Linked DNA regions of Homo sapiens. The protein of the gene in region 2 interacts with the protein of the main gene of each other region in a pairwise test. Each region holds a gene or a part of one and is shown on either strand. Other genes may lie near its edges.

Region 1 (3,500 bases), on a different chromosome or scaffold from region 2:
ATAATGAACTGGAGTGGGGACCAGAATTCTGGTCATTGAATCCAGAGGGCCAAGCCTGCCAGTCTTCACTGTGATGCTTTTCTAGGCTTAGTAGTTAAGTCTTCATATTCTGGGGAAACTATAACTTGTGGAGATAAACTACCTTTTGTGTTTTGGGCCTGATACTTGGATTTGGACCTTTCTATGGAGCAATTCTGTGAAAATGCAGGTCTCAAAGTCCCAGGCTGTGGGAGTTTGGGGAGACAAGGAGTGTAACTGCTGTCAATGAAACAGCAAGGTCAGTGCTGGCAAATAGGATATGTCAAAAAAAAAATGCCTTTAAGTTATTGGACTTTATGTGTTCCAACATATTTCCTAGTGGCATGTGCCAGTGAATTTTCAGTTGTGAGGATTCTATATGTGCCACTTTGAGCTTGTGACTTCCTGTTTTTCCTCACGTATCCCCAGCTCTGAGGTGTACACTGCAGTAGGTCTGGGTACCTGTTGATAAACAACTAGTATGGACTGTTGGTCCAGCCAAGTCTTACCAAAGTATCCTGAATTAACTTGAGGTTAGAAGTCTCAGACTTGGCCGGGGGCAGTGGCTCACGCCTGTAATCCCAGCACTTTGGGAGGCCGAGGCAGGTGGATCACGAGGTCAAGAGATTGAGACCATCCTGGCCAACATGGTGAAACCCCATCGCTACTAAAAATACAAAAATTAGCTGGGCATGGTGGCACGTGCCTGTAGTCCCAGCTACTTGAGAGACCGAGGCAGGAGAATTGCTTGAACCTGGGAGGTGGAGGTTGCAGTGAGCCGAGATCGCGCAACTGCACTCCATCCAGCCTGGCGACAGAGCGAGACTCCGCCTCAAAAAAAAAAAAAAAAAAAAGTCTCAGTCTTGTATATGTTATGGGCCAGTTGCTTTAAAAAAAAAAAAAAGCACCAGAATTTTGTCATCAAATGAAATGTTTTCTGGAAGCATAAACAAGAACTACTCTGATTGAATAGTAAAAGGTGGGAGTGCTATGGGGCAGGGAGCTGATAGCCAGTAAGGGGTCCTTTTAGAAGGCTAGAATCCCAGTGTCATCTGGTTTTAGGAAAACAATACTAAGTGCCTTACTATTTTTTTTCTTTCTTTTGTTGTTTAGCATGTCCCAGGTTTTAAGTATTATAAGTCAATAGCACTTGTTAAAAGGTATTAACAACAGTGTAACTATGAGGGTAGAAATATTTAATTTTTGATGGGGGATCACTAATTGAACTCCTTTAGAATGATTGAAAAATTCAGTTTTCTCTTTTTAAAAAAATTCTTGATTATTAGCAACTACAAGAAATGGACGAACGAAGGACTATTAAACTCAGTGAGTGTTACAGAGGATTTGCTGACTCAGAACGCAAAGTTATTCCCATCATTTCAAAATGTTTGGAAGGAATGATTCTTGCAGCAAAATCAGTTGATGAAAGAAGAGTAAGTGCTAAATAATTATCTTTGAATGCATCTGTTTGGTTTAGGTGTGCAGTTTAAGTTAGTGAAATGAGTTGAGAAAGGGATAAAGTAATCTGATGTGTGGTTCTAAATTATATTCTGTAGAAGAATGTCTTGCAATAGATTCCTTTGAGTTCTGAGATTCATTCTACATGCAAAAGTTCTAATTCTTTCTTAAAAAAAAAAAAAAGATTTCTAACTCTCTTCTCCCACTAAGTTTTCAGTTCTTATCAAAGAGTCTAACCTAGGAACTGTGTGTTACAAATTGTGTTATACTATTATATTAGTTTAGTGAAAATTTAGAGAAGTATGTGGTTAGAGTTGCCTTTAGCACTTGAGCTGGATCAAGAAATGTGGGTAGCATATGGAGTGATGACCAATGAGGAGGAGGAAGGAGGGCATTATGTGCAGATGAAACAGCATAGCCCTCCTCCCCTTGAGGATAGGTAATCACATTGTATCTTGATTAAGGACTAGGGTCTTTTATCTCAGTAAATGTTGATTGAGTGATCAAAAAGCATGGTTGGCAGAAACTGAGGAAAGGCAGTGGCAAGAGAAGAGAACTGGTGTTTGCAGGATATCAGATATGTGTCACATATTTTAGTCTTCATGAACCTATCAAGTAGATATTATATTAGTGAGGATCCTTTCTGTTACAGCTAATAGAATTCTCACTTAAATTTAGAAAAGAGGATTTTTGGCTTTCAGCATGGCTGGATACAAGTTTATACAATATCATTACAGCCCTCTTCTCTCTAATTACCCTTTAGCAAATTATTGCTGAGGGTAGCATTACTGACAAAAGTAAGCTATGACTTAAGGATGACTTTTGACTAAATGAAGGGCAAAATGTACTGTTAACAGAAATAGGCAACAAAAGAGAGGTTGTTGTTAGGGGTGGGGAGGAATTTGTAGAGATACTCTGAAAATAATGAGTTTAAGGTATCACTAAAGCATTCAGGTAGAGGTATGTATGTCTAAAAACAATATTTATGTGAGTTTAAAAATTTTAAATACATGGTATTAAACTTTCAAATGTTGTTTGCACTCAGTAGTGTTTATGAGATCTTTTCCCTGTTGCTCTGTTAACATTCCACAGTATATATTTAATTTATTTATCTTTTCCCATGTTGGATGAGTTAGAAAGCCTTTCCTACTCATCTTTTACTCTCTTTTACAATTAGATGTTCTTTCCTCATTCCAAAGATTAGCTTCTTTGTTGACATCTATCTTTTAAAGCAAAAAGCCTTTTTCCTTTGAAACTTCTCAGAATTTCTACTTGTTAATAACCTCTTTCTGTATTCTTTTTGTCAGTTAGGTCTTTTTCAGCTAAGTAGTCTTCAGATGAATTTCAGGTGGTTAAAGCTACCAAGTAAAAACATTTTATGAATATTATAAATTAATTAAGTTGTAATTTGCAAGTATATTTTTCTTTTGGGATTAAAATACTTTGAGTTTGTTACACATTCATGGGAATAAATTATTTACCTTAATGATTATTGTGGAATTATTTATTTAAACTTATATTTGTTGTTTTTTTGTACTGAAAAAGTTATGAAAGCTGATGTAGAATTATGAGCAAGTGAAACAGTTTTAAAACCTAGTTTCTTTTGTATAGGACTCTCAAATGGTGGTAGACTCCTTCAAATCTGGTTTTGAACCTCCAGGAGACTTTCCATTTGAAGATTACAGTCAACATATATATAGAACCATTTCTGATGGGACTATCAGTGCATCCAAACAGGAGAGTGGGAAGATGGATGCCAAAACCACAGTAGGAAAGGCCAAGGGCAAATTGTGGCTCTTTGGAAAGAAGCCAAAGGTAAAAGTCATAAAATTCCTATATGCTAATCAGTTTAAGTGTACCAACTAAAACAATGTGGGTATTGAATGCAAAATGATTTACCATTAATGGAGAATAAATATTTTCAATTTGAATGATTCAGTTAACCTTTCACTTATATTAGGAATACCTTAACAGTAACAGTTATTTATGGATTTAACATTTGACTACCGCTTAATAATGGGTAA
Region 2 (3,500 bases):
TGAACCAGCTCCTGAGTCTACTGAGGGACAGACCACTGTATTTTATTTTTATTCTGTTGTATTTCATTTTAAAATAAGCTGGTTGCAACCCACTTCATTTTCGTGATTCACTCCTGGATCATTAGTAGCAACTCTTTAAACAATAATTTTTGTTGAAATTGTTTTTCTGATATCTTTGTCATCTGTACTTGGAGTACTTGGCTGGTTGGTGTCAAATCACTGAACTTGAGCCTGATAGGCTGTTCTCCAGCAGGGTCTACCCTCACTGGTTGGACAAAGGCGTCAAAGGATAGTGTTGGCCTTTGTTTTTCCTGAGGGATAGCACAGCCCCCGTGTGTCAGGTGTGTAAAGAAGGGGAGCTGGCATGTGCCCTTCCATCCAACCTAACCCTGTTTCCCCACCCCTCCCTTTTTTTAAAGGTAACATTTGTCGATCACCCATTGCAGAAGCAGTTTTCAGGAAACTTGTAACCGATCAAAACATCTCAGAGAATGTAAGTACCATTCATTATCTTAAAGAGGCCAACCTGAACTCCTCTGGGCAGGAAATTGCAAAAAAAAAAAAAAAATTCCATGTTTCTTCCCCTGCAGTGGAGGGTAGACAGCGCGGCAACTTCCGGGTATGAGATAGGGAACCCCCCTGACTACCGAGGGCAGAGCTGCATGAAGAGGCACGGCATTCCCATGAGCCACGTTGCCCGGCAGGTACCGTCCTTGGACTTGAAGTTGTGTGTTTTGTGTTTCAGTGGGTCATTGACAGCGGTGCTGTTTCTGACTGGAACGTGGGCCGGTCCCCAGACCCAAGAGCTGTGAGCTGCCTAAGAAATCATGGCATTCACACAGCCCATAAAGCAAGACAGGTAGACAAGCTCTTGTTCAATTTCTAATATATAGAGTCCAGTAACTTGAGAAGTAGCGAAAGGATTAACCAGACTTGTATATTAATGAATGTGTTTATTTAGGGTGAGCTTAACCAGCTATGGTGTGTCCATTTTGTTTCACTTCTGGTTGCACGGTGTTGAAAGACTTGCCTGACTTTGGAATTTACTTATTAAAATGCACATAAAAGCTAGGTAATTTATAATGAGAGAGCCTGACTGTGAGCTGGGGCTGAGCGGTGCTCTGTCTTCTGTTCCTTCCTGCATAATTTTTATTAAACATTTAGGCCATAGTAATCATCCTGCTGATATTGCAAGTTTGTTGCTAGAATGAGGTTATATAATATATACAAAAACATTTTTTCAACTGTAAAGTGCCTTAGTAATATAGGGTAATACCAGCAACATTATGGATATATAATTATAGTCTATTGGGCCACACTTAAGTTTGGAGTCTAATAAAGTCACAATCAAATTCTGCAATTTCAATTGAAGATAACCTTGTCTTTATATTATGAATTAGAAGCTAAAGTTGATTTTTCTAAGAGTTCTTTATTTAAATGAAGTACTCTGGGACTGACCTTTTCGGAAATGGAATCTTCATTGGTCAGGTGATTCAACATTTTTATACAATTTATCCATCCTCATCTCTTCAGGATTTGCATACCTTGCCAGTTTCTACTGGCCATTGTTGAAAATACATTTATTTGGAGAAGTCCAAAGCCAAGGGGCTCATGGGGCTGTGAAGTCCTTCTTGCTGCATCGTCCTGTGGTAGAAGGTGGAGGAGTCAAGAGAGTGCCCCAGAGTGAGTGAGAGCGAGAACTAGAAAAACGGGAAGAGGGAAACAGAGGAGAGAGAGAGAGAGGACCCATCAGTGTCAGGAGCCCACTCCCAAGATAGTGGCATTAATAAAGATCCTGCGTCTCACTATTGTTGCATTGGGGATGAAGTTTCCAACAAAGGAACTTTGGGGGACACATCCAAACCATAACATAGGATTTAAATAATTTTACAGAGTTCAAGAGTTCTGCTACTGAACCGTTTGAGATCCCTGTTCTGAGGTCTCATCACTTTCCAGTTTTAGCAGGAAGAGAAGTGGCAAGTGGCAGGAGTCTGCAGATTGGGGCCTGCACCTTTTTTTGAGGCACCTTTTTTATGAACAGTGTTTGTTGGAACACAGCCAGACTCACTCATTCACCTGTAGTTCGCGGCTGCTTTTGTGCTAGAGCAGCACAGCCAGAGCGGCCTGGTGGCCACAAAGCCCGACTGTCTCTGCAGCACTGGTTTTTTATATGGCGTTTCTAGTTGTTTTTAGTAGTAGGGGTGATTTGCCACAAGCTGTTTCATTTATAGCTGCAAGTGGAAATCCTTTATTGTGCATTTGTTACATAAGTTATAGCTGTTTCTTTCTCAATTATTGTAACATCTAAAAATTATGTAACAGTTACTAAGTCTTTTTTTATGAAAAATTTACAATTAGTCCAGAATTTAAAACAAGTTTAGTATTAAATCCTAGGGAATTTCTCACATAACTAATTTGGAGAAATAATATAATACTGTTCAGGCATGGTGGCTCACACTTATAATCCTAATAACACTTTGGGAGGCTCAACATTGCTTGAGCCTAGGAGGTCAAGACCAGCCTGAGCAACATAGTGAGACCCATCTCTACCAAAAAAATTTTAAAAATTAGCTGGGTGCTATGACATATGCCTGTAGTCCCAGCTGTTTGGGAGGCTGAGGTAGGAGGTTGGCTTGAACTCAAGAAGTTGAGGCTGCAGTGAGCTATGATCACACCACTGTACCCCAGTGTTGGTGACAGAGTGAGACCTTTTCTCTAAAAACAAAAAGAAAAAATTCAGTATTGTACTTATTCTCAATTTTGAAATAAGTCAATGTCATGGGAGTGTTGACGAAATACAGTCTTTTCTAGCTACTGGAAGTGCATACTAAAAGCCAAAGTTTCTCATTTTTTAGAAGAACAGGTATACACTTTCCACCTTTGTTCCGCAGTACGTATGTTTATGTTTCTTATTCTGCCATTATTTATAGTAGTCGAAATTCACAAAATAATCTTTTCATTTGTATTTTAAGTAGGTGTGTTTATAGATTATATCAGAAAACAATCATAAGCTTTCAGGTTACAATCAGTAGAAATACTGAGTGGCATTCTCTTCTGTGTGAGGTTTAAATTATGGATAGTCAATCAAAATAAAGGAGGACTGTCAGTTATCACTCCTGTGTTTCTTTCTTAGTGACCACCTCTGACCACCCAACTTAATACTTTTACTCCTCCCTGCCCCAAAGCTGTATGTATCTCCTCTCTGCTTTATTTCCTCCAGGGCATCTGTGCCTCCTGTGTGTTGCCTGCCCCCATGTGGAAGGGCAGCTCCATGGGACGCGGCTCTGTCCACTTAGCTTGGTGTTTGTTACTGGGGCCCAGGATGTTCAGTGCTTGTGGAATGAAAAATAGAGTAGAATAATGAAGGGGATTAAATATGTGACATTTTAGTATGTTGACTGTATTATACACTGCTACTAAGGAATTGAAGCCGATGTATAAACATTGTGTCTACACATTATACTATTTTATGATTATTGTATGGAACTTTATAATACAAA

Evidence for each region. Proteins that work in one complex are often made in the same cells at the same time.
Region 1: the proteins of ACP1 (region 2) and FNBP1L interact in a two-hybrid assay, tested with the Homo sapiens proteins (one large-scale study listed by BioGRID and IntAct).

The regions. Positions count from the first base shown.
Region 1 is NC_000001.11:93,531,618-93,535,117, forward strand, and holds part of FNBP1L (formin-binding protein 1-like), read left to right. Parts: intron 1-1,304; coding exon 1,305-1,451; intron 1,452-3,087; coding exon 3,088-3,291; intron 3,292-3,500. UniProt on the Homo sapiens protein: Required to coordinate membrane tubulation with reorganization of the actin cytoskeleton during endocytosis. May bind to lipids such as phosphatidylinositol 4,5-bisphosphate and phosphatidylserine and promote membrane invagination and the formation of tubules.
Region 2 is NC_000002.12:271,447-274,946, forward strand, and holds part of ACP1 (low molecular weight phosphotyrosine protein phosphatase), read left to right. Parts: intron 1-419; coding exon 420-493; intron 494-590; coding exon 591-704; coding exon of another isoform or gene 705-859; exon of another isoform or gene 860-1,035; intron 1,036-3,500. UniProt on the Homo sapiens protein: Acts on tyrosine phosphorylated proteins, low-MW aryl phosphates and natural and synthetic acyl phosphates with differences in substrate specificity between isoform 1 and isoform 2.